Linked DNA regions of Homo sapiens: region 2 is linked to region 1. The links come from fine-mapping of genetic effects on gene expression. A gene starts in region 1. The other region holds a variant in brackets. All regions are shown on one strand. Distances are from middle to middle. Region 1 holds the start of LINC02680 (long intergenic non-protein coding RNA 2680). Region 2 overlaps MKX (mohawk homeobox).

Region 1 (15,849 bases):
TTTTATCTACAAATTTCCTGGGGGACAGTAGTACCTGCTTAAAGCATTAAAAACAAACAAACAAAAACCATGGAAATGCCAAAACTCACCAAGTTTCAAATGATGAAGATGCGATTATTAGAAATCCCATTCTGTCTCCAGTGAAGAATATCATTCATAAAAATTACATTTTACACTTTGAGGTAATTTTTTCTAGATCAAAATCCACACAATGGCACTTCTACAAAAACACCCAACACGGTTTTTCTCTGCGAGTAAGATATAAAAGCTCCTTGGAAATGAATTTATAATTTTATTTTAGTTCTTGCGCTTGCCCATGTCTTCTTCTTCATTATTTTGAAGAATTGAGACAAGGTCTCACTTTTGTCGGCCAGGCTGGAGTGCAATGGCACAATCATAGCTCACTGCAGCCTTGACCTCCCGCATTTTTTTTTTTTTTTTTTTTGTAGAGCCGAGGTCTTGCTATGTTGCCCAGAATGATATTGAACTCCCAGCCTTAAGGGATTCTCCCACCTTGGACTTCTCAAGTGTTGGTATTACAGGCATGAAACACTGCACCAAGCTAGAAATACTTGCCCATTTCTATTGCTCGGGTCACGTGGCTTAAGATAGAACTTGAAAGTTGAGAGACGGCGGAGCGTGGTGGCTCACCCCTGTAATCCTGCACTTTGGGAGGCCGACGCGGGCAGATCCTTGAGGTCAGGAGTTTGAGACCAGCCTGGCCAACATGGCGAAACCCCGTCTCTACTAAAAATACAAAAATTAGCCGGGCGTAGTGGCGTGCGCCTGTAGTCCCAGCTACTCCGGAGGCTGAGGCAGGAGAATCGCTTGAACTCGGGAAGCGGAGGTTGCGGTGACCTGAGATCGCGCCACTGCACTCCCGCCTGGGCGACAGAGCGATACACCGTCTCAAACAAACAAACAAAACAAAAAAAAGTTGAGAGACAATAATACAAAAAACAAGAAGGAAAGATCTTTTGATTTTCAGTGAGGATGTTGCAGGGAAGGTGGAAAAGGAGCATCAAGACCCTTTTAAATTTTGTTATTCTCTAAATTTTGCAATTTAGCTATTAGCTTTGTAAAGTGTACATTCAGGGCAGAATTGTAGCCTGTCGGTGTTAGGTTATTTCTCTGCAGTCAGTTTGTGGAACATAATTTGACTGATGATAGATCTAAATCCACGCAGTAATCACTCAAAATGAGATGATATTTATTTCATATGCATGTGCTATATAATACTATGGTTATCAAAAATTGAATTAGGAGAATTGCGCCCAACGAGAATGGGCTTGTCTATGTGAGATTCATGTGGTTGTTATGCTTTCTTTTTAATAGTCCAACAAAAGAGAAAAGGCAAGATATAAATGAGTGATTCCGGAATCCATGCACCTAGAAAATGATTGTTTTGTCTATCTAGATTGGTTTTCTTTTGCATGTGAATTTCCAATTGTTCCAGCAACATTTGTTGAAAAGACTTTCTTTGCTTCATTGCATTACCTTTATTTTGACAAAGATCATTTGGCTATTAGAAACCCACGCGCTTGGAAAATGAGATCTCTCAGTTCTCCATGAGGTGGCAGCAGCTCCTCAGTAACATGAGAGACCCTGTGGTGAAGGTCAAGTTCAAAGACGCCTTAGGCACTGTCCAGCTGAGAATTTTCACAGGCTGTACTTTCTTTGGCCAGGTTTCCTCTGTGACTTTGTTTCTTTTATTTTCTTTTTGAGAAAATTCAGCAACAAATCACCTTTTGATTATATCTGGGCCTTCCTGTTGTAAGATGGACTGCTTATACTGGTCAACAGACAGATTTCACAGCAGTCCTGGGGCCAAATTATAGTTTAGCAGCCACAGAGATTGACTTAGCTGGAGGTGGAGGACATGGAAGCATAACCGATCTTGCAATTTTGGAGGAGAGAATTGCTTCCTTTCTATAGCATACATTTATCTTTTTATAGAGAAGTTTTAGGGGGTTGAGTAGAGGCATTACAGATAAAATGAGGATGCTACCAGTGTTTTATAAAACTGAGCCAATTTAGGGTTTTAAGATTACTTATTTATATATTTTTATATTTTTCCTTTAAAACCATTTTAGAGATTATACTGTGTTTCCTTTTGTGAGAGAGAAAACTGTTTTCTGGAAGCACTCAGTTAAAATAAAGAATTTAAAATTGCGCTTCATTTTCCATCAAACTTTTAAAACTAAATTGTTTGATGATTTTGACTCTAATATATTGAATACATTTAATTCTAATAGGCTTCCTTCTCCAAATGTTTCAAATTATAAGACAATCCTTTCATTGTATTCTTCATCAGAACCTGGCACTGTCCCTCTTTCTCTGCCTTTCTTTGCTTAAATTACGCTATTCTGGATGAGTAATGATAGACATACTTGATCTAAGTATATGTCTGTAATGTTAAAGTCATTTTTAGAACGTTCAGAAGCCCTTTTTCTGCTAACATTCTTTTTTTTTTTTTTTTTTTGAGACGGAGTCTTGCTCTTTCACCAGGCTGCAGTGCAGTGGCGCGATCTCAGCTCACTGCCACCTCTGCCTCCCGGGTTCAAGCGGTTCTCCTGCCTCAGCCTCCCGAGTAGCTGGGACTACAGGTGTGCGCCACCACTCCCAGCTAATTTTTGTGTTTTTAGTCGAGACAGGGTTTCACCATGTTGGCCAGGATGGTCTCAATCTCTTGACCTACTGATCCGCCTGCCTCGCCTCCCAAAGTGCTGGGATTACAGGCATGAGCCACCGTGCCTGGCCTCTGCTAACATTATTGATCACACTTACCACTTCAAAAATCTTGGTTCTAGTGATAGTCTACATTTTTATTGTTGTTGTTTCTATTTTCTTAATTTTTCTCCTAGAGTGATTAATTCCATTCTGTACTTTTTCACAAATAGACTGTTTTTAGAGTAGTTTCTTGTTTACAGCAAAATTGATCAGGAAGAACAGAATTCCCATATATCCTCTGCCATCACACATGCACAGCCTCTCCATTATCAACAACCTACACCAGAGAAGTGCCTTTGTTACCATCAATGAACCTATAGAGATGCGTGATTATCAACAAAGTCCATAGTTTACATTAGAGTTCACTCTCGGTGTTGTACATTCTGTGAGTTTTGACAAGTGTTCAATGACATGTATCTACCATTGTGGTATCATACAGAGTAGTTTTACTGCCCTAAAATTCTCTGTGGGCTGGGCGTGGTGGCTCACGCCTGTAATCCCAGAACTTTGGGAGGCTGAGGCAGGCAGATCACCCGAGGTCAGGAGTTCGAAACCAGCCTGACCAACAAGGTGAAACCCTGTCTCTACTAAAGATACAAAATTAGCCGGGCATGGTGGTGGGGGCCTGTAATCCCAGCTACTCAGGAGGCTGAGGCAGGAGAATCGCTTGAACCCAGGAGGCAGAGGTTTCAGTGAGCTGAGATTGTGCCATTGCAGTCCAGCCAGGGCAACAAGAATGAAACTCCATCTCAAAAAAAAAATTATCTGTGTCTATTCATCCCACCCTCTCCTTTAAGACCTGGCAATCACTGATTATATATATATATATATATATATATATATATATGTGTATATATATATATATATATATGTGTATATATATATATGTGTGTGTGTGTGTGTGTGTGTGTATATATATATATATATATATATATATATATATATATATATATATATGTATATATATATTTTTTTGAGACAGAGTCTTGCTCTGTCACCAGGCTGAAGTGCAGTGGCAAGATCTCGGCTCACTACAACCTCCGCCTCCCAGGTTCAAGCCATTCTCCTACCTCAGTGTCCTGAGTAGCTGGGACTACAGGCATACCCCACCACGCCTGGCTAATTTTTGTTTTTTTTTTTTTTTTTGGTAGAGGCAGGGTTTCACCAGGTTGGCCAGGATGCCTTCGATCTCCTGACCTCATGATCCGCCCACCTTGGCCTCCCAAAGTGCTGGGATTATAGGCATGAGCCACCATGCCTGGCCAATCACTGATATTTTTATCATATCCATAGTTTTGCCTTTTCCTGAATGTTGTATAATTGAAATCATTACAATATGTAGGATTTTCAGATTGGCTTATTTCACTTAGTAATATGCACTAAGTTTCCCCCATGTCTTTTAGTGACTTAAATCATTCACTTCTATTTTAGCACTGAAGAACATTTTATTCTCTGTCTATACCCATTTGTATTTCTGCTCATCTACTGAGGGACATCTTATTTGCTTCCAAGTTTTGGCAATCATAAATAAAGCTGTCATGAACTTGTGCATACAGGTTTTTGCATGGATGTAAGTTCTCAATTCATTTGGGAGAATCCCTGAGACTGCCAAGCTTTTACAAAGTGGCTTTTTGCATGCCCACTAGCAATGAATGCTAATTCCAGTTGCTTCACATCCTCACCAGCATATGATGTTGTCAGCATTTTGGGTTTTGGCAATTCAAATAGATGTGTCGTGTTAGCTTGTTGTTGTTTTAATTTGCAATTCTCTAGTGACATATGTTGTTGAGCATCTTTTTATATGCTTATTTACCATTCTTGTGTCTTCTTTGGTGAGTCGTCAGTTAAAGTCTTTTTTAGTTGGGTTATTTGCCTTCTTATTGTTGAGTTTTAAGAGTTCTTTGTGTATTTTGAATAACAGTTCTTTATCTGATAATGTCTTTTGCAAATATTATTTCCCAATCTGTAGCTTTTCTTTTTATTCTATTGACTTGTCTTCTGCAGAGAAGAAAATTTAATTTTAATGAAGTCCAGCTTACCAATTATTTCTTTCATGGATCATGCCTTAGGTATTGAATTTATAAAGTCGTCGCCATCCCAAGGTCATCTAGGTTTTCCCCTGTATTAGCTTCTAGAAGTTTTATAGTTTTGCATTTTACATTTAGGTTTATAATCCATTTTCAGTTAAGTTAGTTAGGGGTGTTATGTCTATCTAGATTGACTTTCTTTTGCATGTGGATTTCCAATTGTTCCAGCAACATTTCTTGAAAAGACTTTCTTTGCTTCATTGTATTGCCTTTATTCTTTTGTCAAAGATCAAAGTCTTCAAGTCAGATAGTGGCCATCCTCTGACTTTGTTCTTCAATATTGAGAAGGCCCTTCTGGGTCTTTTGCCTTTGGGATTTTGGAATTGTATTAGATTTATAGATCAAGTTAGAAAAACTGACATTTTGAAACCATTAATTTTTTTGTATCCATGAACATGGAATATCTCTCCATTTATTTTGTTCTTTGATTTCTTTCACAGAATTCTGTAGTTTCTCTCATATAGATATTATACAGATTTTGTTAGATTTACAGCTAAGTATTTCATTTTTGGTGGTGCTAATGTGAGTAATAATGTGTTTTTAATTTCAAATTCCACATGTTCCTTGCTGTTATATAGGAAAATGGTTGATATTTGGAAGGCAGCTCTGCTCACCACTATACCACTGAGACATGATTGACATTTGTATGTTAGCCTGTATCCTGTAACCTTGCTATAATTTCTTATTAGTTCTAGGCGGTTTTTTTTTTGTCAATTCATTCAGATTTTCTACATATACAATCATGTCATCTGAAAACAACCATAGTTTTATTTCTTCTTTCTCAATCTGTATACATTTTATTTCCTTTTCTGGTCTCATTGTATTAACTAGGACTACCAGTATGATGTTGAAAAGGAGTAGTGAGAGGAGAGCCTTACCTTTTTCATGATTTTAGTGGGAAAACTTCTAGTTTCTTGCTATTAACTATGATGTTAGCTGTAGGTTTTTGGAGATTTCTTCTTATCAAGTTGAGAAGTTTCCTTCTATTACTAGTTTTCTGAATGGTTTATCATGAATGCATGTAGGATTTTATTAAATGCTTTTTCTGCATCTATTTGTGTGATCATGTAATTTTTCTTCAGCCTATTGGTGTGATGGAATTACACTAATTAATTTTTGAATGTTGAAACTACCTTGCACACCTTAGATAAATCTCACTTGGTCATAGTGTGTAATCTTTTTATACATTGTTGCATTCTTTTTGTTAATATTTTATTGGGGATTTTTGTTCATGAGAGATATTGATCTGTAGTCTTCTTTCTTAATAATGTCTTCATCTAGTTTTCGTATTAAGGTAATGTTGGCCTCATAGAATGAGTTAGGAAATATTCCCTCTGCTTCTGTCTTTTGGAAGAGATTGTAGAAAATTGCCATAATTTCTTCCTCAATATTTGGTAGATTCACCAGTGAACCCATCTGGGTCTGGTGCTTCCTGTTTTGGAAGGTTATTAATTATTGATTTACTTTCTTTAATAGATATACGCCTAGTCAAAGTATTTCTTCTTTTGTGAGTTTTGTTAGATTGTGAAATTTCAAAGAAATGGGCCCATTTTTTAAAGTTATCACTTATACGTAAAGTTACATAAACATACATATATATATATATAAGCATAGATAATAAAAGACATTGTTTTTATTACTATTATTCTTATTTTGAGACAGAGTCTCACTCTGTTGCCTAGGCTGAAGTGCAGTGGTGTGATCATGGCTCACTGCAGCCTCAAGCTGCTGGGCTTAAGTGACACTCTTAGCCTCCCAAGTAGCTGAGGCCACAGACATATACCACCATACCCTTCAATTATTATTATTATTTTGAGGCAGGGTCTTGCTCTGTTGCCCAGCTGGAGTGCAATATTGTAATAATGGCTCACTGCAGCCTTGACCTCTGGGGCTCAAACAGTCCTCCTGCCTCAACCTCCTGAGTAGCACTACAGGTGCATACCACCATGCCAGGCTAATTTTGTGTTGTTGTAGAGACAGGGTCTCATTGTGTTGCCCAGACTGGTCCCAAACTCTTGGGTTCAAGAGATCCTCCCACCTCAGCCTTCCAAAGTGCTAGAATTACAGGTGTTAGCCACTGCACCCAGCCTCTATTATTATTTTGAACATTTATTGGTTAGAAAACTGAGTAATAAGAAAAGTAAAAGTTTTTGTCCAACCATATCTTATTCATTTTCCAGTGCTAATCTTTTCTTTATGTAGATCTGAGTTTCTGACCTGTATCAGTTTCCTCCTCTTTGAAGAACATGCTTCAACATTTCTTGCAAGGCAGGTCTACTGGCAACAAATTTGATTTTTGTTTGTTTGAGAAAGTTCATTTCTCCTTCACTTTTGAATAATTTCTCAGGGTACAGTATTCTAGGTTGGTGGCCTTTTATCTCAAAACTTTAAACACTTCCCTTCACTCTATTCTTGCTTGCCTACTTGCTGAGGAGACATCACATGTAATTCTTATCTTTGCTCCTCTAGAGATAAAGTGTTTTTTTTTCTTTTGCCTTCTTGAAACACTTTATCTTTGATTTTTCTTCAGTTTGAATATGATATGCCTACATGTAGGGTATGTGTGTGTGTGTGTCTGTGTGTGTGTGTGAGAGAGAAAGAGAGACAGAGAGAAAGAGAAAGAGAAAGAGAAAGAAAGAGAGAGAGAGATTTATCCTGCTTGGTGCCCTCTCAGCTTCCTGGATTTGTGGTTTGGTGTCTGACATTTATTTGAGCAAAATTCTCAATGATTATTGCTTCACTTAATCTCTTCTGTTCCTTTCTCACTTCTTCGTTTTCTGTTTTTCCAATTTGAATATTTCTATTGACATTTCCTCAAACTTAGTGATTCTATCCTCAGTCATATTCAGTCTACTAACAAGGTCATCAAAGGCTCTTCATTTCTCTTACAGTGTTTTTGATTTCTAGCATTTCTCTTTTTAAAAATTGTAGTAATAGCATTTAACATGAGACCTATTCTTTCAACAAACTTTTAAGTATTAGCTATAGACATTTAATTGTACAGCAGATGTCTGGAACTTATTCATCTTGTATAACTAAATCTTTATACCCAATGAATATCAACTCCCCATTTCCCCCTCCCCGCCGCCAGCCTCTGGCAACCAGTCTTCTTACTCTCTGTACGGGTTTGGCTTTGGCTATTTTTAGATACTTCATGTAAGTGGAACCACTTATATGAAGCATCTAAAAAAGTATTTGTTGTCCTGTGACTACCTTATTTCACATAGTGTAATGTCCTCCACATTCATCCATGTTGTCTCATACTGTAGGATTTCCTTCTTTTCTAAGGCTGAATAATACTTCATTGTTTGCATATATTTTCTTTATCCATTCATCTGTCAATGGACATTTAGATTATTTTCCACATCTTGGCATACATAAATAGAGTTCCTTATCCTTAGTTCAGGTCTTCGTTAAAACCTGAACTTCTCCATTACCACTGTAATCTGTAACATTAACATTCTCTAATGGATCTCTCTGAATCTGACCTTCCATCATTCAGTCTAACTATTACATTGTTAGTAGTGTATTTTTCTAAAAGGCAAAAATAATAATCCTTGGTAATAGATGAGTAGCTCATAAGAGGCTTAGTCCATTTTGTGCTGCTAAAACAGAATACCACAGACTGGGTAATTTATAATGAACAGACATTTATTGGCTTATAGTTCTGGAGGTCGAGAAGTCCAATATAAAGTACTAGCATCTGGTGACGGCCTTCTTATGCATCATAATGTGGTGGAATACATCATATGGATGAGAGAGACAGCAAGAGGGGACAAAACTCATCCTTTTATAAGAAACCCACTCCTAGGCTGGCGCAGTGGCTCATGCCTGTAATCCCAGCACTTTGGGAGGCTGAGGCAGGCAGATCACCTGAGGTCAGGAGTTCAAGACCAGCCCGGCCAACATGGTGAAACCTCATCTCTACGAAAAATACAAAAATTAGCCAGGCATGGTGGCATGCACCTGTAATTCCAGCTACTCAGGAGGATGAGGCAGGAGAATTGCTTGAACCCAGGAGGCGGAGGTTGCAGTGAGCTGAGGTCACACCACTGCATTCCAGCCTGGGCAACAGAGTGAGACTCCATCTAAAAAAAAAAAAGAAAAGAAAAAAAAGAAAAGAAAAGAAACCCACTCCTGTGATAATAAACCTACTCTCACAATAATGGCATTAATCCATTTATGAGGGCAGAGCTTTTACAAACTAAACACCTCTTAAAGGTCCCATCTCCCACCACCTCCACATTGGGGATCAAGTTTCCAATACATGAACTTTAGGGGACACATTCAAACCATGGCATAGGTTAATCTTTTACACAATTGAAATTCACTAGAAAGGTGAACAAACAAGAACATGGAATCCATAGTCAAGACAAACAAACGCTGAGATATTTGAATTACCAGACAAAATCTTGGAAGGAGCTATTATGGTCATCTTCAAAGACTTAAAGGGAAATGACCACAATGACTAAACAAACTTATAATTTTATTGGAGAAATGGATAAAAGAAATCAAATGGAAATTCCAGAAATGAAAAGTACTGTATCTGAAATGAAATGTTTTCTGGGTGGGTTTAGCCAGTAGACTAGAGATGGCAAAAGAAACTAGCATGAACTGAAGATGAGTGAACTGAAGGTAAAATCAAAAGCTAGAGAGAAAATTTTGAAAATAGCCAAAGGAACAAGGATACAGATGGTGTCTTATATCTCATTTGAGCAGTGGAGCCCAGAGATAATGGAACAACATATTAAATGTGTTGAGATGAAAAAAATTTGCTTGCCCAGAATATCATATCCATCTAGAATATCATTCAAAAGAGAATGAAGAAATTTTGTGATCAATGAAAGCTGAGAGATTTTTTTTTTTTTTTTTTTTTGCCAGCTCATCAACACTACAAATCTAAAGCTGAAAGCTCAGGGTACGGTAATGACAGATGGAAACTTCATTACAGAAAGCAATGAAGAACACCCAAGTGGTAAATATGTGGGTAAATATGGAATATCAGATATCTATTTTTATCTTACTTTAAAAAAAGAAAACTGTTTTTCAATAGCAAAATAACAGCTAGTGCTTATTGAGATATTTCAATGTTATTATGTCATTTCACACACATTAATCCACTTAATTCTCATAATAAACCTCTTTTATAGAACATTATCTCAACAGCTGCAAAATATGCATTCTTCTTTTTGTTTTTTTTAAAAACAAGGTCTTGCTCTGTTGCCTAGGCTAGATTGCAGTGGCATGATGATTGCTCACTGCAGTCTCAAACTCCTGGGCTCAAGCAATCCTCCTGCCTCAGCCTCCCAAGTAGCTAGGAATACAGGTGCGTACCACCATGCCAGACAATTTTTATTTTTTGTAGAGATGAGGTCTCACCATGTTGCCCACATTATTCTTAAAAGCATATGGAATGTTCACCAAAATGTATCATATCCTGAGCCATGAAACAAGTCTGAATACATTTCTAGTAATAAAATCTTACAGAGTATTTTTTCAGACTTTAACAGAATCAAAATAGAAATCAGTAACAAGAAAACTTCTTTATTCTTTTTATTTTATTTTAAGTTCTGGGATACATGTGCAGGACGTGCAAGTTTGTTAATAGGTAAATGTGTGCTATGGTGGTTTGCTGCACCTGTCAACCCCTCATCTAGGTATTAAGCCCAGCATGCATTAACTATTTTTCCTGGGGCTCTCTCTGGCCCTGCAACCGCCGGCAGGCCCCATTGTGTGTTGTTCCCCTCCCTGTGTCCATGTGCTCTCATTGTTCAGCTCCCACTTATAAGTGAGAACATGTAGTGAAAACTTCTTTATTCTCATCAAAAATTTCAGTAAGATGTATCTGCTATGAGTTTCTCCTCACAACTTCTGCTAGGGTTTCAGTGGACTTGTGTTCTCTATTTTCTTTGTCTCTTAACCTTTTCCCCATCACTTTATTACTTCTTATTTTGCACTGTATCCTGGAGGATCACTCAGCTTGCATTTCCAGGTCGCCACTTTAATCTTCACATATTTCCTTTCTGTATCTTAGCCCACAGATTGAGATTTATCTGTGGAGTTGGGGGATGACAATCATTTCTATTTTCCAACCACTCTGATCACTTTTTCAAAGAAACTTTTTCTTGTTGTGATAGCTTCTCCTTTCTCTGAGGATACTAATGATTATTTTGCAGTCTTCTCTTGTTTCCTTTGTAAATTCTGTTTCCTCATGTGTTAATTCTTTTTCACATTGTTATTTTCTCAGCTATCTGGTGATTCTTAGATGTGTGTTTATATTGATGAGGGAAGATTACCATTTCAGTACTTTTAAGTGAAAGGTATTCCCTCCGTAAGTTGAAAGTGCTTGGATTCCTGGAAGTGAATGTGGATTCCAAGGTTATACAGGGAGGGTCACAGAGGATGTGCATGAAGCTGAGCTTCCCTCTAGGGAAGTGGTACCTTGTCTTGTGGGTGCAGGTCTGCTATTTTTTTTTTTATCAGCTGCAATTCATGTGTGAAGTTACCTCATTTCTGTGGCCCCAGCGTTTTTGTCTCTGAATCTTTCAAATCAGGACTCGTAATTTGTTTAGAGGAATGTACTGTCAACATATTGAAAGAAAAAAGAACAACGTTTCCACATGGTCCCCTAGTTTGTAATCACAGAAACATGAACTTTGAGAACTGGAAGGGCTATCAAGAGTTGAGGGAATGGAGTCATAAGTCAGTAACTTCTCACCAGGGATGGAGACATGTGTTAGTTTCCTGTTGTTACCAAACAAGTAACCACAGACTTAGTGGCTTGAAACAACACAGATGTATTGTCTTATAGTTCAGGAAGTTAGAAGTTCTAAAATCAAGGTGTTGACAGGGCTGCATTTTTCTGGAATCTCAAGGGGAAGGTCTACTTCCTTGCTGTTGTGGGCTTCTAGAGGCCGCCCACATTCCTTGGCTAGGGTCTCTTCCTCCAGCTTCAAAACCAGCAGCACTGTCTTCAGATCTCTCTCTTCCTCTAATCTCTGCTTCTGTCATCACATCCCCTTCTCTGAGTAAGATCCTCCTGCCCCTCTCTTGCAAGGACCCTTGTGAATACATTGGCCCTATCCAGATAATCCAGGGTAATATCTCCATCTCGAGGTCCTTAACTGTATTAGTCTACTCTCACGCTGCTGATAAAGACATACCTGAGTAATTTATAAAGAAATACCTGGGTAATTTATAAAGTAATTTATAAAGACATACCTGGGTAATTTATAAAGAAAAAGAGGTTTAATGGACTCACAGTTCCACATGTCTGGGGAGGCCTCACAATCACGGCAGAAGGTGAAAGGCATGTCTTACATGGCAGCAGACAAGAGAATGAGAGAGTGCCAAGTGAAAAGGGAAACCGCTTATAAAATCATCAGATCTTGTGAGACTTACTCAGTACCACGAGAACAGTATGGGGGAAACCACCCCTGTGATTCAATTATCTCCCACGGGGTCCCTCCTACAACACGTGGGAATTATGGAAGCTACAGTTCAAGATGAGATTTGGGTGGGGACACAGCCAAACCAGATCCTTAACTAAATCGATTTTGCAAAATCCCTTTTGCCATGTGAGATTCACTGGTTCTGGGGATACAGATGTGACCATTTGGGGGAGACCATTATTCTGAGGTGTGTGTCTCTTTTTGAGCTGGTGGGGCACAGCAGTGGGTGGTCTCAGGAGCACTGAGGATGAGGCATCTTAGGTTTGAACATTAGAGTCTCTAATTGTTCCTCTACCCTTTCCCTGTTGGTCTTCCTACTTTCCCCTATCTCCATACTCTCACAATGATAAGCATTCTTACTGAGCCCGTACGTTCTCTTTTCCAGCTGGTCTTGGCTCATTCCTGCTCCTCCCTGCTAGTATCTCAAAGCCACCTTACAGGAATGTAAAAGCCACACTACCCAATTACTGCAACTCAAAGGATAAATGTCAACATCTATACAAAGTATTGTCAGAAAGAGTGTGAAAAAAAGGTAAGGTTCTTTGTGGAGTCTGTACAGGCCTGTAAAAATCCAATTTATGTACCAGAAATGACTACATATGTTATGCAATAGAAATACCTCTACCAAATCCTGACATGTATATGTGTTGGGCCTGCATTTAATCGAGGGTCGTCTCTTTAGATTATGATGTGAAATTCCCATTTGAGGTCTTTGATGGGAACCACATGGCAGAGCTTTGCTGCTTAGCTGTAGAGCGGGGCAGCCCCGCTGCTGCACAATGCATCCTGTGTAGCTTTCATGTTTGACAGATGGCCTGCTTTTCTGTGTATATTATCAGATGCCTCCTTCTCAAGCTGTAAAATCTGATGATAGAGCCCAAATTTAATATATTCAACCTGAGCTGTTGATAGAATTAAAAACTTATCAGCCAAAGATGTCATGTTTACTCAACATCAGAAACAGAGTACTTTTTAATGTTGTTTTTGTTGATCTGGCCAATATACTCTCCAAAACGTTGTGCTCTGAAGAAAGGGCAGAGAAGCAAAAGAACAGATAGAGGAGCAGTGGGAAGTGGTGTCAAGTCCTAGCAAGGTCATTCCATTGTGGAGGGAGGCCAGCTGACATTTCATTTTGTAATACTTAACAAGACAGAAGGGCTGGGTGTGGTGGCTCATGCCTGTAATCTCAGCACTCTGGGAGGCTGAGGAGGGAGGATCGCTTGAGCCCAGGAGTTCGAGACCAGTCTGAATAACATAGGGAGACCCCATCTCTACAAAAATCAAAAATTAGCCCATGTGGTGGCATGCACCTGTAGTCCCAGCTATTTGAGAGGCTGAGGCAGGAAGATCACTTGAGCCCAAGGGTTCAAGACCAGCCTGAGTAACATGGCAAGACCCCATCTCTACAAAAAATACAAAAATTACCCAGCCGCGGTGGAGTGAGCCTGTAGTCCCAGCTACTTGGGAGGCTGAGGTGGGAGGATCACTTGGGCCTGGGAGGTTGAGGTGGTAGAGAGTTGTGATCGTGCCACTGCACTCTAGCCTGGGCGATGGAGTAAGACCCTGACTCAGAGGAAGAAAGAGGAAGAAGAATAAGAGGAAGAAGAAGAAGGAGGAGGAGGAGGAGGAGTAGACAGTATATGATAAATAATTTCACAGAATAAACATTATTTCATGTATGCTCTTGATTGCAACACAATTTTTCTTTTACAAATTTTTTAAAAATTATGAAATAATTCAGACATATAGAAAATAGCAAACACTTAGGTGCTTAAGATCCAGATTTAACACATCTTAACACTTGCCTTATTTACTTCAGATATTATTAAAAATAGGACAAATGTAGTTAAAGTCTCCTTTGTGTCTTTCCATGACAGGAACATCCTCTTCCCATTCTGTGGGTCTGGCCATTCTTCTCAAGTTGACATCTTTCTCATCTAAACTTTTGCCTCTTAGGAAGTTTCTGTGCAGTCATAAAAGTAAACATTATTGGCCAGGTGCAGTGGCTCACGCCTGTAATCCCAGCACTTTGGGAGGCCGAGGTGGGTGGATCACTTGAGGTCAGGAGTTCGAGACCAGCCTGGCCAACATGGTGAAACCCCATCTCTACTAAAAATACAAAAAATTAGCCAGGCGTGGTGGCGGGTGCCTGTAGTCCCAGCTACTAGGGAGGCTGAGGCAGGAAAAGCTAGCTGGGCATGGTGATGGGTGCCTGTAATCCCAGCTCCTCGGGTGGCTGAGGCAGGAGAATCACTTGAACCCTGGAAGAGGAAGTTGCAGTGAGCCAAGATTGTGCCACTGCACTCCAGCCTGGGTAAGAGAGTGAGAATCCATCTAGGAAAAAAAAAAAAAGAAAAAGTAAACATTATTGTTTGGTGTGTTTGAAACTTTACATAAATGGCATTATACTGCACCTATCATTTTGCAACTTGATTTTGTTACTCAACATTGCTTTTGAGATTTATTCATAAGGATACACGAAGCTTCAGTTTATTCATTTAAATGGCAACGTTCTGTTTCATTGTAGTAACATGCCACATTTTATTTACCTATTCTCTTACTGATAGGTACTGAAATTGTTTCCAGTATTTTGCTATTTTTAAAAAAAAAGCTGCAAAGAATCTAGTTATTGCTTTTCTTGTTTTGTTTGTGTGTGTATTTGCTTTCTAGTTTGTTAATTTCTGTAAAGGTTTTCACTTTCAACTTTTTAAAAAAGATTTACTCCGTTAATCTTTTTCTAATACCCCCTCCCCCTTTTTTAGAGACAGGGTGTTGTTCCAGGCTGGAGTGCAGTGGTGCAATTATAGCTGACTGCAGCCTGGAACTCTTGGGCTCAATTGATCCTTCAGCTCCAGCCTCCCAAGTAGCTAGTACCACAGGTGTGCACCACCATGCCCAGCTGATTTTTAATTTTTTTTTTTTTTTTTTTTTCCAGACAGAGTCTTGCTCTGTCGCCCAGACTGGAGCACAGTGGGGCGATCTCGGCTCACTGCAAGCTCCACCTCCTGGGTTCAGGCCATTCTCCTGCCTCAGCCTCCCGAGTAGCTGGGACTACAGGCGCTTGTCACCACGCCAGGCTAATTTCTTGTATTTTTTAGTAGAGACAGGGTTTCACCGTGTTAGCCAGGATGGTCTCAACAGTCTCCTGACCTCATGATCCGCCCGCCTTGGCCTCCCAAAGTGCTGAGATTACAGGCGTGAGCCACCGCGCCCGGCCGATTTTTTTTTTTTTTTTTTTGGTAAAGATGGAGTCTCCCTATATTTCCCAGGCTGATCTTGAACTCCTGGCCTTAAGCTATCCTCCTGCTCTGGTCTCCCAAAGTGCTTAGATTATAGGCATGAGCCACTGTGCCCAGCCTCCTAGCCCTTTGAATTAAATGGCTAATTCTTCAGGCAAAAAGTTTTATCAGAAATAAAACCTTAGTACGTTTTCATAGGTTTTAATGTGCTATATATTCCCTGCCATTTAATTCCAAAATTTCAAAATTTCCATTGTGAGTTTATCTTACAATTATCAGTTGTTTGTCACTTTGACTTTTAGTTTTCAAACTTGTGCTGTTAATTTTTTTGGAGAGGAAGAT
Region 2 (15,849 bases), 150 kb after region 1:
AGATGAGATCTCTCTGTCCCGTGCTGTATGCACCCTGTATTTCTGTGTGGCATTTTGCACACTTCCTTGTTCTATGCTCATCTACCACAAAGCACTGTTCGTCATGGTCACCGCGTCAGCCCCAACTCACAGAAGAAAGGATTCTCAATGATTATTTGTTAACAGATTGATGAACTGATGGGGAGAGATTAATTTAATACTTTAGCATACAGCGTGTTATTAGGATGCTAAACTGTCAGGTGACAAAATAGCAGTCCCTTTGGAAAGCAAAAAGATGTGCCCCAGGGGGTTAAAAAAGTGGGATCAGGACTGCATTATGACTTTCATCAGCTCTAGGTACTTGTGCTTTGGTGCACTCTTTCCTACATAAAAAAAATTAAAAATGATATTTTACAAATGCATTGGTCTATAGGTGCATATAATCCAGGCTTATGATGTATTCATTATTATTGCATTCATTTTTCTTTTGATTAAAAAAACGAAATTGAAATATTTTCATGGGTCCTGGGCACCATGCTACTGTGCCTAACTTGGGAAGTTGGCCTTGGGTAAGGTAACCCAGGAAAAAATAGTGGGTGTGGGTATCTCTTAAAGAAATCAGGTCTGTAATGCCCAAGGTCGTGGTCCTGGGTAATTAGGAGGCAACATGAGGACGCGGGAACCCAGCACTGCTGTGGAAAGGGGAGGTATTAATAAAAGCAACATAAAAATTCAGCCTCTTCCAGGCTTGCCGCCCTGCGTCCACACTGCTGCATCCTCTCTGACAGTTACTGGCGGCAACACTTAGCATCTATTGGCACTAAGTATGGGTTAATTCTGCAAAGCTAACTTAATAAGTTTTGAATTTCAAAGAAAAATGAAAATAAAATAGAACTTTCCTTCCACCCAAACTGAAATGTTCCTCTAGCTAATCCATTTGTGTTTTTAAGGGAATTTTATTTTTTAAAAAGCATATTTTTCTAAATGGAAGCTTATATCCTCTAAACAAAAATGCTTCTGTTTGAAAGTACAGTGACTTAATGTCACACAAGTGTAGATGAAGGTAAACAGGTCTCTGCATTATTCTATCAGAAGTGAGCAGGTTAAACCAAAGCCAACTTTGTATCCTTAAAATAGTGGGAGAGTGGGAGATGGTAACCTTTATACATTTTCTAAATAACGTTCTTCTACATTTTGTTCTTAAAGAAGGAAACTGTTACTTCTCTTAGTTGATTTAATTTAAAAAAAACTAAGAAATCCTTCCAACCATAGAATATTGAAATATTTAACAGCCAGTATGGCATTCACACCAAACAATCACAAGAGATGCTGGCCGTAGAGAACTCAGAGCGACAACTGGTGCATCCTGGCAAGTATCTCACCCCTTGTAAAAAGTACTTTACTTCTCACTTCACACTTTTTTTTCCCTGGTTTAGCTCACTGACCATCACAAGGCCTTCTCCCGTATACCTAAGCCCACAGAAATTAATAATGGTTTATTGTGCACCATTAATGTATTTGTTCATTTATTCATCTATACATTTTCTATTTCTTTAATGCATCAAAAAATTGACTATAGGCCGGGCGCGGTTGCTCATGGCTGTAATCTCAGCACTTTGGGAGGCCGAGGTGGGCAGATCACGAGGTCAGGAGATCGAGACCATTCTGACCAACATGGTGAAACCCCATCTCCTTTAAAATAAAAAAATTAGCTGAGCGTGGTGGCGTGCGCCTCTAGTCTCAGCTACTTGGGAGGCTGAGGCAAGAGAATCACTTGAACCGGGAGGCAGAGGTTGCAGTGAGCCAGGATGATGCCACTGCACTCCAGCCTGGGTGACAGAGCGAGACTTCTTTTCAAAAAAAAAAAAACGACTATTGCCAGATAATATGTCGAGTACCAGGGATGAATGAGACAAATCTATACAGTTGGAACTCCATGTCTGCATCTGCAGATCCAACCAACAGTGAATCGAAAAATATTTGGAAAAAAATAAACAATAAAAAGCAGCAATACCGGTTGGGTGCAGTGGCTCACGCCTGTAATCCTAGCACTTTGGGAGGCTGAGGCAGGTGAATCACCTGAGGTCAGGAGTTCGAGACCAGCCTGGCCAGCATGGTGAAACCCCGTCTGTACTAAAGATAAAAAAATTAGCTGGGCATGGTGGTGGCTGCCTGTAATCCCAGCTACTTGGGAGGCTGAGGCAGGAGAATCACTTGAATCTGGGAGGTGGATGTTGCAGTGAGCTGAAATTGTGCCACTGCACTCCAGCCTGGGTGACAAAGCGAGACTCTGTCTCAAAAGAAAAAAGTAAATAAATAAACAACAATACAACAAAAAATACAGATAAAAAATACAGTTTATAATACAAAAAAATACAAATTAAAAATAGCAACTATTTCCATAGCATTTACATTGTATTAGGTACTATAAGTGATCTAGAGATGATTTAAAGGATACAGGGGGATGCGTGCAGGTCACATGCAAATACTATGCCATTTTACATAAGAGACTTGAGCATCTGTGGATTTTGGTATTGGTGGCAGAAGTAGGGTAAGTTCCTGGAACCAAGCCTCCCAAGATACAGAGGGATGACTGTACTGTAGGGTAGTCAACATTTAATGAGGCGAACAAACCAGTTCTTCGCACTGATTTCTGGTAGGACTGGTAACAATAGCAAAACAAGGGTGAGCTGATCTGAGGATGTGGCTCTGTTCCACATGTGTGAGTGGCCATGAAGACAGCAGGGCTTCCTGAAGATGAAGATCCTGTGCCCCTCTGGAGTGGGATGAAAGGGATACTAGCCAGTTTTAAGCCAAATTAAACTCTGACTTCCCTCTCGATGCCTCTTCTTTAATATGAGTTATAATAAAAGCCCTTTCCATAAATTTCCTCCCACCACCACCACCATTTGGGAAGCCCCGTGACTCTAAGGCAGTGCTGTCAATAGAATTATAATGTGAGCTACATGCAAACCACATAAGTCATTTAACATGTTCTAGTAGATGCACTTACAGTAGAAAGAAAAAGTGAAAGTATTTTTAATAAAATATTTTATTTAACCCAATATATACAAAATAGTATCATTTTAACATGTAATTAGTATAGAAATTATCAATGAGATATTTTCCATGCTTTCTTTTCTCATATATTTAAACATATCTCAATTTGGACTAGTCATATTTCACATGCTGGGTTGCCTCATGTGGCTATTGGCTACCATATCAGACAGCACAATTCTAAGGGCTCTCTAGGCAGAATGAACAAGTGAACCACTCTGTGGGCTGTTCCTTAAATTTCATAGTGACATAGTGAATCCTGAGGATGCCTCAGAAGTTCAGAGATGCCATAGTTTCCTATAGCATTCCTGTGGAAGCAGAGATTCCTAGAATTGTCCTGCAATGAAAAAGTTGAAGATGAGCTAGGGCTTGATTTGTGGCCACATACTTTGCTTCCTATTCTTGATCCCTGGTTTAAAGTAACTTCTTATTCTGGATTCACTACTGACTGGTCACAAGGACTGGATTCCCCCTCTCACCAGCTCATCTTTAGTTTCTGCATTAGCATGAGAGGGACACACTCCCCAATGTCCTCCAATAGATCAATCAGAGAGTAAGCTAAAGCCTAAGGCCCAGAAGGGACTCCTCCTCTGGGGGCAGCATGGGCAGGGCCAATTCCCAGTTTGAGAATTTCTACCTTTTCCACACAACTGCAGAATTGGCAATGGGTCTAATTCCATTTCTGGTCTATCTCTAACTCCATATTTCTGCTAGTTTTTAATTTTTTATTTTTATTTATTGATTGATTGAGATAAAGTCTTGCTCTGTCACCCAATCTGGAGTGCAGTGGTATGATCTGGGCTCACTGCAACTTCCACCTCCTAGGTTCAAGTGATTCTTGTGCCTCAGCCTCCAAGTAGCTGGGATTAGAGGCATGAGTCACTACATATGGGCTAATTTTTGTATTTTTAGTAGAGATGGGGTTTCACCATGTTGGCCAGGCTGGTCTCAAACTCCTGACCTCAAGTGATCTGCCTGCCTCGGCCTCTCAAAGTGCTGGGATTACAGCCGTAAGCCACTGTGCTCAGCCAGTTTTTGTTTGTAAACATTTGTGCTTACCAATTATATTTATAAGTCATATTATTGGACTGGCAAGAGTTTCCTTTAGAAACGTGTTCAATCTTAGCCCAATCATATCATTACTTTTCAAGTAAGATGATAATAATTTTTTTGTACTATCCATCACAGGTATGAATAAAACTAGATGTGCTAGAATACCCTGGAAACAGAGATAAATCCCAGGCAACAGTGCTTTAAAGTCACAGACCACCAACAAGAAGAGAAGCTTCATCACTGGGAAAAGAATGCATCTCTCAGAATAACATAGCTTCATATTTGAATCAAATTAAAAATACATTAATATTTTAAAACATTTCTTTCCTAAAAGCACTATCTACTCTTAAAATGCTATTTTATGTCATTATCTATTCTTATTTCATAATTGTCACTTTTTTCTTTTCTTTCTTCCTTTCCTTCTTTCCTTCTTTCTTTCTTTCTTTTCTCTTTCTTTCTTTCTTTCTTTCTTTCTTTCTTTCTTTCTTTCTTTCTTTCTTTCTCTCTCTCTCTCTTCTTTCCTTCCTTCCTTCCTTCCTTCCTTCCTTCCTTCCTTCCTTTTTCTTTCTTTCTTTTGTTCTCTTTTCTTTCTTTCTTTTTTTCTTTTTTTTTCTGGGTCTTGCTTTATTGTCCAGGCTGGAGCGCAGTCGCACAGTCATAGCTTACTGCAGCTTCGAACTCCTGGGCTCAAGTGACCCTGCTGCCTCAATCCCTCCCCAGTAGCCGAAACTACAGGCGCCCACCGCCGTGCTCAGCTAATTTTTAAAACTCTTTTTTTTTTTTTAATAGAAATGGGGTCTCGGTATGTTGCCCAGACTGGTCTTGAACTCCTAGCCTCAAGCAATCCTCCTGCTCTTGGGTGCTGGGATTACAGGCATGAACAACTGTGTTCATCCTTCACTTTTTCTTATAAAACAGGTATCATTTCCCATAAAGGACAAGAAGCAGGTAGACTGATAAGCATGAACCAAGGTAGATTTTTGTTGGATCAACTGACCTGTTTTCTTTTTTCCTAGAAGTTTCCATACCAACCTCTGCTTCTAGATTGGCCAGGTGAAGGAGACGGGCAGGGCCATAAGCATGGGATCCCGTGGTGCCCCACACCAGCTGTCCTGGCTTGGATACAGCTCTGGAGTGGTCAAAAGAGCGCTCTGTCCCTAATCATCAACTCTGCTCCAAAAAGGAACCTGAAAAAAGCTCTAAACTCACAGATCCAAGAAGCCCAGACATTCCCATTGCTGTCTTCGAATGGGATTCTAAAGCCAGGGGGATGATGTTTTAGGGAATCCTTGAAACTCCTACAATTATAAACAGGTGTGCATGAAGAAAATACACTACCATTTAATGTCCCAAACGCCTTATAAGGAAGGTGAAGGGGACCTAGAAAGCCCCTTAAGTTCGCTTAGCATCTCAGTAAGTGGTCTGAGCATGGAACAGAGTTTGGGAGTTGAAGCAGGAGAGACCTGGGTTACACTACAGGTAAAGAACATGGGATTTTGAGGCAACTGGGGATTAGGAGGTAAAAGGAAAAGGTGGGAGGGGGAAGAGTAGAACCAGTGAGGTGCTGTGAGGCTGGAGACCCTGGGAGGTGAAGCAGGCAAGGAAGAGTCCCATGTCGGGGTGGCCAAAGGGCACTAAAGAATGAAGACAAGTAGTGCTCTGTAGGAAATCATATAAACTGCTGTGCCCAGGCACAGTGGCTCAGGCCTGTCATCCCAACACTTTGGGATGCAGAGGTGGGAGGATTTCTTGAGGCCAGGAGTTTGAGACAAAACACGACAAGACCCCGTCTCTACAAATAAAATGTTAGCAAGGTGCAGTGGTGAGTGCCTGTGGTCCTAGCTACTAGAGAAGCTGAGGTGGGGGGACGGCTTGAGCCCCAGAGCTCAAGGTGGCAGTGAGCCATGATCATGCCATTGCACTGCAGCCTGGATGACAGAGCAAGGCCCTGTCTCTAAAAAAAAACAACAATAATAAAGTCATATGAATTGCTGTGATGGAAGGTCCTCCTTCACTCCCTCTGAATCTTCCTTCAACTGTACCACGTGCACAAGCTTTCCGAGAGTGGGGATCTTCTGGCGTTTGAGGAAGGGAGTATATTTCACATCTGAATCCACGCGATGAGGAACAGGGAGCACATATGTGGAATGGCAACACGACCCAAGCACCAAATATACCATATGCTTAGAAGATGGAGCCCTTGGGCATCTCTAGAAATCTTCAGAAGTGTCTGACCTTCCATAGTGTGCAATCAAGTATTTAAGGGATTGCTATTTAGATCAAAAGGATCAGAGATACCCTTGTTGCCATCTGGGCTACACAACAGTGTCTATGTGTTTGTGTGGGTTTAAGGGGGTGGATGTGCATTTTTCTGAAGAAGGATGCAAGGCTTTTTACCCAATTTTTAAAGCAGTCCATGTACAAAAGGAAGTTAAGAGTGACTGCTTTAGAGAGTTCTATTCCGTAAATGATTTTTTTATTTTGAGTTGACTTAACCAGGATGGAAAACACAGTAAAATCAAGTGGAAAGAGCCTGAACCAGGAGCTTAGAGACTTAAATTTTCTTTCTGGCTCTGCCATTAAGTAGCTGTGCAAGAGATGATCACTCCCTCCCACCCTGCATGAAAGCAGGAATAATTATCCTTATTTTTACCTCATAGAGTTATAATGAGGATCAAATAAAATAACAGATGTTCAGGTACTTTCTACAGTACACAGTGCAACACAATATACGGTATTATTAGATCTAATCTGGCATTAGATTTGCTAATCTAATACCAGAATAGTAAGTACAAAAATGACCTTAGTAAAAATATTTTTACAATTCAACCGTGGATACCATGGATGTTATTGCCCTCTTCTTGCCATGATAAACAATGGCGTTCTGCTTTAGATGATATTTTCATCATACATTCAACATTTGGAGTTTCACTGTGTTCTAGCCTCACTTTACAACTTCTATTTTGTGACTTTTCTTACTTCTCACCTGCTCCTCTGTAGGCGAGTACAGCAAATTTGTGCAAAGACCAAAAAAAAAAAAAAAAAAAAGAGGCTTTGCTTGCTTTTTCTCTGCATGGCAACAGGCATGACATTTGATCTGACACAGGGATTAAGTCATTCATGAGTGGAGCCCAAAGGGAGGAACAGCTCCAAAAAGCAACCAGGCTCGCTGGTACTACAACATCCAGAAATTCACAGTCGCTTCTGCTACAGTTATAATTTGTAGTCTGTCTGGCACTGAGAAATCTAACTGCAGTCTCTGTGGTTTAAATAAAATGTATGTAGAGCAGCTTGGAGCCATGTTTTAAAATGTTCCATGTTATTTTAGTTCAAGGACAAGCTTTTAAAATTTAAAAAAACCTTTGGCTTTAATGATAGATTAAAAGTGAAAGTTGTTTTAAAGGAATGTCATTGAGTCCCATTGTTAGAGAAAGCGCTTGACATTTTTTAAAATTAATTATTCTCTTAAAGTAACAATCTTCATTAATACAAGGTGATCAAAAACAGAGTATGTACTCCCTCATCAAGACAACATTTTTGTGGTTTCGAAACTATGGTAGTCACAGTTTGCCCACTTAGTATTATATTTTCCAGTGATTTCAGTTATATTTTACAACCAGGATGCAATATTTTAATAGCCGTTACTGC[C/T]GACACAATGACAGACTCAACCAAAGGAAGCTGATATTTCTGGTTAACATGAAATGTAAGAAAAACTCAGTATCTTAGAACCTAAACTTATGAAACAGAAGTTGACTTATGCTGTACATATAACAAAACGATTTATGGCAAGATTAGTTTAAAACACCAAGTGTCTGCTCTGTCCTTAAACCTTGATTAGATGTAAACCTTTTGTTTTTGGAATGTATCTATTCTGAAAATCAAGGTGCAACTTTATTTTCTGTGGATTTACAGAGTGATGTGAAGTAAAGGGTGTAAGTCGAATCTACAGGCAGGGGCAGTGACTGAGGGCCTGGACCCTAGACCCCAGGCAGGGTCTCTCTTCCTTTCCTGCCTTTGGCATTCTGAGGCCACTCAGATCTTTAGGCCATAGGAAGGAACTTGACTGCAGTCTTGTTTTCTTAACAGACTTGCTGTCCCTTTCAAAGGAGCAGCTCTCCCCACTAATAAGGAGCCTGTAACCCTTGTTCCATGCAATTGCTGTACTTTCCTTTATCATAGTTTTGGCCTCCATGGCTCTCAGGAGAATTGCTGCAGGCAGACGCTTGCTTTGCCCTGGACACTGTGTTATGTTGCTGGAGTCCCTCTCCTCTCTACAGAGATGTTCAGTGTTCTCTCCTGGGATTCTAAGACCAAAATGCCACCGGCCTGTGCTACAGAGAAGGCTTGGTCCTAATGGCATTCTCTCCAGCCTCAAATGCTCACAGTGGCACTCCGGGAGAAAGGATCTGAAGTAAGACGAAGGAGGGATGAAATAAATTTTAGACTGAAAGTTGTTACTGAAGATGAGGGTGCTACGTGGCTGATCCTAATCTTCTAGAATGAGGAAAGGATTAGGATGGCCTGGAGAAGCCAAGGACTCTCCCTGCAAACTCTCTCACACTGTTAATCCCCTCAGAGATTTAGAAATTCTGCCTTCAAAATACCCTGTGGGAAATGAGGATAATAAGGTACCTACTTCATGGGGTATTATGAGGCTTGAGTAAGAAAATACATGTAGGGCACTTAGTGCAGTGCCTGGCACAGGGATCCCTAGCTATTTTTGTCATTATTATGCCCTGGTATAAGCTATTTTGATGGTGCTCCTTTCATACTTTACTGACGTCAGCTGCCTGAGATGAGAGCCTGCCATTCTCGATTGACAGATGGAAAACCACTTACTCCAGAAGATCGAAGGGCAGACAGAGGACCTATGGGATGGGCTGGGGGCTGGGCATAGCATAAAGACATAGGTTGCTCTGGGCATAGTGGGAAAAAAAGGTAGAGGAAGACATAAAAGCAGGTCTAAGGATCTCTCAAAAATAAACTGCCATCTTTTCCCAGGATTGGGAAAAAGTAAAAGATAGTGCTGAAGAAGGTTTTAGAGTCAAACAGATATGAATTCGAATCATGGTTCTGCAACATCTCAGCTTATATGGGCACATTCTGCTATTTAAGTCTGTTCCCTCATCCTTAAAATAAGGATAGTAATATGTACATCACAGAGTTATTGTAAGGACTAACTAAAATAATACATGCAAGTGTAGCACATAGCACAATGCCAGGCACATAGGAAATGCTTGATAAATAGCAGCCATTATTATGTGTGATAAACATTCATCATGCCATGGGGAATAATCTAGCCAGCTACCTTAGAAGCACATTGTCAGGCTACTAGGGAGGCTGAGGTGGGAGGATCACCTAAGCCCGGGAGGATGAGGCTGCAGTCAGTCATGATCATGCCACTGCACTTCAGCCTGGGTGACAGAGTCAGACTCTGTCTCAAAAAAAAAAAAGCAAAAAAAAAAAAAAGCACACTGTCAATTGCCTGATGCTGGCCTGCATGTGAAAATGCCTACTTTATGTTATGAGATAAAATACAAGTAACCTTAAGGAAAGCAAGATTGACTGAATGGATAAAGAGAACACGTGTTTTCTGTGCTCATATGTAAATAATTATGTAAATTTCAACTAACTTACTTAGACAGGATTTGATTACTCCATTTATAGATTAGCCATACCAAAAGCATTTAAAGCGGTACATTTTTTTGTACTTTATAAGCTCACACTCATCATAATGTTAATTGTCTAAACATTTGTGGTTGTACGGGCCAAACCTTACCCAAATCCCGCTGCCACATGATCTATGCTGGGGTAGGAAGAATTTTGCCCTCATGACTTTTCAACCTGGTATTACATCTGTGAATATGTTACGTTCCATGTTAAAAGGAACTATACAGATGTAATTAAGATGATCAATCAGTTGACCTTAAATAGGAAGATTATCTGGATGGGCTTGAGGTAATTACATGAACCCTTAAATGCAGAGCTTTTTCCTGGGGGAAGGCAGGGGGAGAAGTCAGAGAGGTTCAAGCCTGAGAAAGACTCAACATGTGGGTGTTGGTTTGAAAGTGCCAGGAGGCCACAAGGAAGGGAGTTGGGCAGCCTCTAGAAATTGAGAGGCAAGGAAATGTGGGTCTCAGTCCTATAGCCACAGGGAAATGAGCTGTGTCATTGGCCTGGATAAGCTTGTACGTGGGTTCTCTCTTAGAGCCCAGAATGACACCTTGATGTCATCCTGGTGAGACCCTGAGCAGAGAACCTAGCTATGCCATGCCAGACTTCCGACTTCCAGAACTTTGGGCTCATAAATGGGTGCTGTTTAAAGCTACAAAATTTGTGATGATTTGTTATGCAGCAAGAGAAAACTAATACATATGCATTAAAAACTGTTCTCTGATTTATAACTGTAGTCATCAGTTTTCAACTTGACATTGTTAATGAATTCAGAAACCACATACTACATTCCTGACTGCTGCATGCAAGCTGTCTGTTCCTGGCCATGTAGGTACCATGATCTCAGGCTGGACGTCTGGCATTTCTCTTGCCCTTCTTAGCTGCAGAGGTTTCACTTAATATGTTCGTAGAATATGTGTGTGGAGATGACATTGCCCATCAGCATCTCCAACAGGATATACAGAAACATTGGAAAAGAAAACCCTTCAAATTCCCCTATTCCCAGGGAAAGCCTGGTGGAGGAGTATGCTGCAATTGTTAGCTAGAAATTAGGTCTGGATATTTGCTGTTTATGATTTTTGCCCAGTGGCGAGATCAACTAGTGATAACATGTAAAACTCGACCTCATCAGCGTGATTTTAGCACCTTAAAGGATGAACCAGAGAACTAGCTCTATAATTCAGGGAAAGACCCATGCAGCATAACAGGGACTGCCTAACACAATGATGATAAGTGCCCTGCAAACAAAGGACTCTAGAAATATTAGTTACTCCACTGAAAGCTTGCTGCTCTTGGAAAGATCTTGGGAACAGTGGCTTATTTTAAATTCGTTACTGTGTAAGCATCATAGTTTCCTCCTGGTGACAGATGAACAATCAACCTTATTCCTGAAGGAAGAAAGAAAACTCACAGAAAAATATTCTGTGGTCAGTTCACCACTGCTCAGGGACATAGAAGTATGGTGAAATACTCAGTCATCTCATTCACAGTCAAACAAACCAACGAAGAATCTAAAGCGCTAAGCAAAGACAATACACTGTATTATTACTAAGAAGAAGAAGAAGAAAAAGAAGAAATAATAATGAAGGTATTAGAGGAAAGCAAAACTATTTTGACATTTTCACAATAAGCCAAATATGCAAATTTAAATATGTACTTTATTGATATGTTTTCAAAATATGATAATCTTTTCCCTCCCATGGTTTTGTTTTATTTTGATGTATAATTTTAGTCAATTACATTTGTAGCGCTAGCGAAAATTATTAAAATAACCCAAGTACAAAAGGGTAAAAAAGCAATATGAAGCATATGATATTTAATTTTCCATTAATCAATAATTTTGCTTGAAGGAAATATTGGCAAGAAGGAGTGGAATTCTTAGCTCCTTGTTTTTACTTTAAAAAATCCCAGGAGTCCTCACTCAAAGAACCTAAGTTTTCCACTGGAAAGACAAAAAGAAAAGTCAGGTCTAGTGTGCTACAAGCTTAACGACATAGTAAAATAGTATCCACTTGGACTCCAGTCACATTTCAAAAGTACAGTACAGATTAGGTGCACAACTGCCAAGTAATAATATATCATATTATTATAATTATGGCTTTTTTTATTTAACTAAATTATATTTATCTCTTTATTCAAGCACCATAGTTCAGGAAGTCTTACCTATCACAATGCATCATGTTTTTGTACATGAAACCTACCAGGAATGTTGCAACAATTCCCACTGCTCCATTGTGTGCACAGTTACTCTGTATTTATTATTCGTTGATATTCAGAATCTATGCTTAACTTTGAATGTGTGCAAATTCTCCATAAAAACTCTCAGAAGTAAGGAAAACATCTTTTACCATAAAATCATTTGCTAAAAGTCTGTGTTATAGAATTACCCTTTAAGAGGGGGTACTGAATAAGCTTTATTAATTTCTCTCTCGAAATCTCATTAAATTGCAAAATGTAAATTTGAAAACAAATACATGCTTAATGGGGCTCAAAAACAATAAAAGGTACCATTGCCAAGTCAGAAAAGTTGAGAAATTCATGGAAAGGAAAATACATATGGCATCAAGTTGGTGGGGAAATCCAAACTGGGAACCACAACTCAAAACAGGTGGAGGGCAAGACCGTGGAGAGTGTGAGCTGCTTCTCCCAACAGGGCACAGATGTTCCAAGTGCACAGTTCACAAAGAATAAGTAGCCTACCAGGGGAATCAAGAAAATTATCAGTTACGAGACAGCTGTCAGAAGAGCTAGGGCATACCTCTTCTTCCTCTCTGAGTCCACAGAGAGCTTTCTGGGTCATCTAACCGCAGCATAAAGCTGCTACAAATGCTCTTTAAATAGGTTAGGGGACCTGTCTAAGGGGGGTTCCTAGAAAAGGCTTTAAGGCCATTAAGAGGTACAGAGTAGAGATTCTAGTAACTTCTGATCTCTACAGGGATCATAGCTGCTATGACAAAGTAGTGATAAGAAAAAAAAGATGTTCTTGGAGAATAAAAATAAGACACCAAACTTAAAAGAAAAACTGCAGTAGGAAAATTGATTTATAGGGCCAGGCATGTTGGCTCCCATCTGTCAATCTCAGAACTTTGGAAGACCAAGGTAGCAGGACTGCTTGAGGCCATGAGTTTGAGAGCAGCCTGGGCAACATAGTAAGACTCCCATCTCAACAAAAAAAATTTTAAAATTAGCTGGGCATGGTGGCACATGCCTGTAATCCCAGCTACTCTCGAGGCCCAAGGTAGGAGGATTGTTTGAGCCCAGGAGTTTGAGGCTGATGTGAGCTATGATTGTGCCACTGCACTCCAGCCTGGGCAACAGAGTCTCAAAAAAAAAAAAAAAAAGAGAGAGAGAGAGAAAAAGTTGATTAAAGTATGAATGGGGGAAAAGTTAAAGACCAAATTATTAATAATAATCTAGAAGATAAAGCTAAAACTGTTCAGAAAATGGAGGAGAAAGATGAGAAACATAAGAGGAAAAGTAGAGAACCAAGGAATCTCAGGCTAAGATCCTTTCACAAGTGAATTCTTTTAAACTTTCAAGGCATCAGGAAGAGTTAATGCTAACTTTATTTAAAATTTCCTAGCATAGAAAAAGATAAAATACATTCCAGCTCATTCAATAAGCCTAACATAACTCTAATACTAAAACTGTGCAAGGAGACCATTAGGAAAAAAAAAAAGAAAGCTAAAGACAAATCTCAGTTAAGAATTTTGATGCAAAATTATTAAATAATGTTAATAAAGTGAATCCAGAAATATATTAAAAGAATATTATATTGATATGGAATAAAAACTTTCCCAAGAATTCAAGGATGATTAAGCATTAGGAAATGTACTACTGTAAATAACTTAAATAGATTAAAAGAGGACAACTAGATGACAATCTTAAAAACTATAGATACAGCAGTTTGTTGTAAATGCAATGACCTATTCAGTTAAGTGTGTGGTTGGGGAGATATCTTATTAAATAATCTAGGAATGGAAAGAGAATGCCTTAACTCAATAAAGTGATTACACCAGAAACCTTCTGCAAACATTATACTCTATGGTAAAATATGAGACAAATTCTCATTAATGTGTGTTATTACTGCTGTGAGTCAATGATGTTTTGTAGGACCTGGCCAACATGATGCAATAAATGGAGAGAGGAAGGAAGGGAAAGAGAAGGAGAGTAAATACACAAAACTTACTATCTGAAGATGAGATACTTGTGTACTTGAACAATGGAACTAGATATAAGAAAAATATACAAAATGCAACAGCTTTCCCGTATATCCATTATAGCTATTATTGAAAAGAACTCATCTGCAATAGAAACAATAAGAACAACAAATAAAAATCCAGAAATTAACCTAATGAGAAATATCCCAACCCTACGTAAGGAAAACTGTAAAAACTAAAAAGATGACCAGAATAAATGGAGAAATCTGCCATGCCCTCAGTGGGAAGATTTGATATAAATATCATGGACAAAAATATTCTCCAAACTAACATTTAAAGTCAATGAAATCCCAAATTAACTTCTAACAAGAGTTTTTAAAATAGAATTATCAAACTTAAAGTTCTACTAGAACAATAAATTCAAGGACCTAGATGAGAATATTTTGAAAAAAAAAAATGGAAGTAGACATACCCTGTCATACATCAAAATGGACAATAAAACTACACTCATGAAAATGGTACGCTATTCTGTTCACAATAGGAAACACATGGAACCAACCCAAATGCCCATCAATGATAGACTGGATAAAGGAAATGTGGTACATATACACCATGGAATACTATGCACCCATAAAAAGAAATGCGATAATGTCCTTTGCAGGGACACGCATGGAGCTGGAAGCCATTAGCCTTGGCAAACTAATGCAGGAACAGAAAACCAAACACAGCATGTTCTCTCTTATAAGTGGGAGCTGAATAATGAGAACATGTGGACATAGGGAGGGTAACAACACACACTAGGGCCTGTCATGGGGAGATCAAGGGGAGGGAAAGCATCAGGAAAAATAGCTAAAGCATGTTGGGCTTAATACCTAGGTGAGGGGTTGACAGGTGCAGCAAACCACCACGGCACACGTTAACCTATGTAACAAATCTTCACATCCTGCACATGTATCCCAGAACTTAAAATAAAAAGGAAATCAAATGTCATGCTATTAATATATGTTTAAGTTTGATAGAATACAATAGAGTCCAGAAATAGGCATACATATAAAGGAAGTCAGTATATAATGGGGGTAGTATTTCAAATCAATAAGGAAAGGTAGAAATATTCAGTAAAATGTGTTGGGACAATTGGCTGTTCATTTGGTGGAGAAAAAAGTAGTCTGATCATGATCTCATATAATTTACAAAAATAAATTGTAGGTAGATTATAAGTATATAACATGTACTTAAAATAATAAAAATGTCAGAAAATATACTTCTGATAAAAATTATCAGAAAAGTTAAAATATAGCATACTTCTATAATCTTGGGAGAGATCTCCTAAAAATGACACACGACATAAGGCAAGCATTGCCAGATGTAAACACGTGACATCTACCCTCTTGGCCTCCTACCCCATGGTCAGAGCCCAACACCCCCACTGGGCAGAGTCCTTTACCTGTCACCAGGGAGGTTTACTGGTGCCATGCTCCCCAATGCTCCTTTGCAATGTCCCTGTCTTGTGGCTCAGAGCCCAAGTTCTGTTCTAATAGAGACATTGCGGTGTGCATTTAGCTATGACTTTCTATAAACTGTGGGCTTCCTTGTCTCTCTGTGCATTGCACAGAATTGCATGCTGTCAGAGATGTAAGGTACTTATGGATTATCTTGTCATACATCTTCGTTTTACAGCTAAAGGAACGAAAGCCATGATTAATAAAGGGACTTGCCTTAAAACACACACCCAGTTGCTAACAGATCTGGCCAATACACAGAGCTGCTGATTTCTAAGGCATTGCTCTCTGCTCTGTCCACATTATAGCTTCCTGTGGTCTCATCTACAAGTGGATAATTTCGTGTAGGTAAGGAGGTTGGTTGGAGAGAAAACTGGGGCCCTACAAAGTCATTTTCCAAATCACAGTTGAAGGAGTGGGGACTTTAC

What was found.
Region 2: its variant is fine-mapped to the expression of LINC02680 in whole blood (TOPMed, PIP 0.91).

What each region holds. Positions count from the first base shown.
Region 1 is chr10:27,557,134-27,572,982 of GRCh38, forward strand. It overlaps LINC02680 (long intergenic non-protein coding RNA 2680), which reads left to right and starts at 9,054. Exons shown (of 3, transcript XR_007062094.1): 1 at 9,054-9,804; 2 at 12,654-12,800.
Region 2 is chr10:27,706,893-27,722,741 of GRCh38, forward strand. All of the region lies in intron 5 of MKX (mohawk homeobox), which reads right to left. Among named protein-coding and RNA genes, the nearest start is that of MKX-AS1, 30 kb to the right of the region's middle. The variant C/T (reference allele first, on the strand shown) is at 7,738.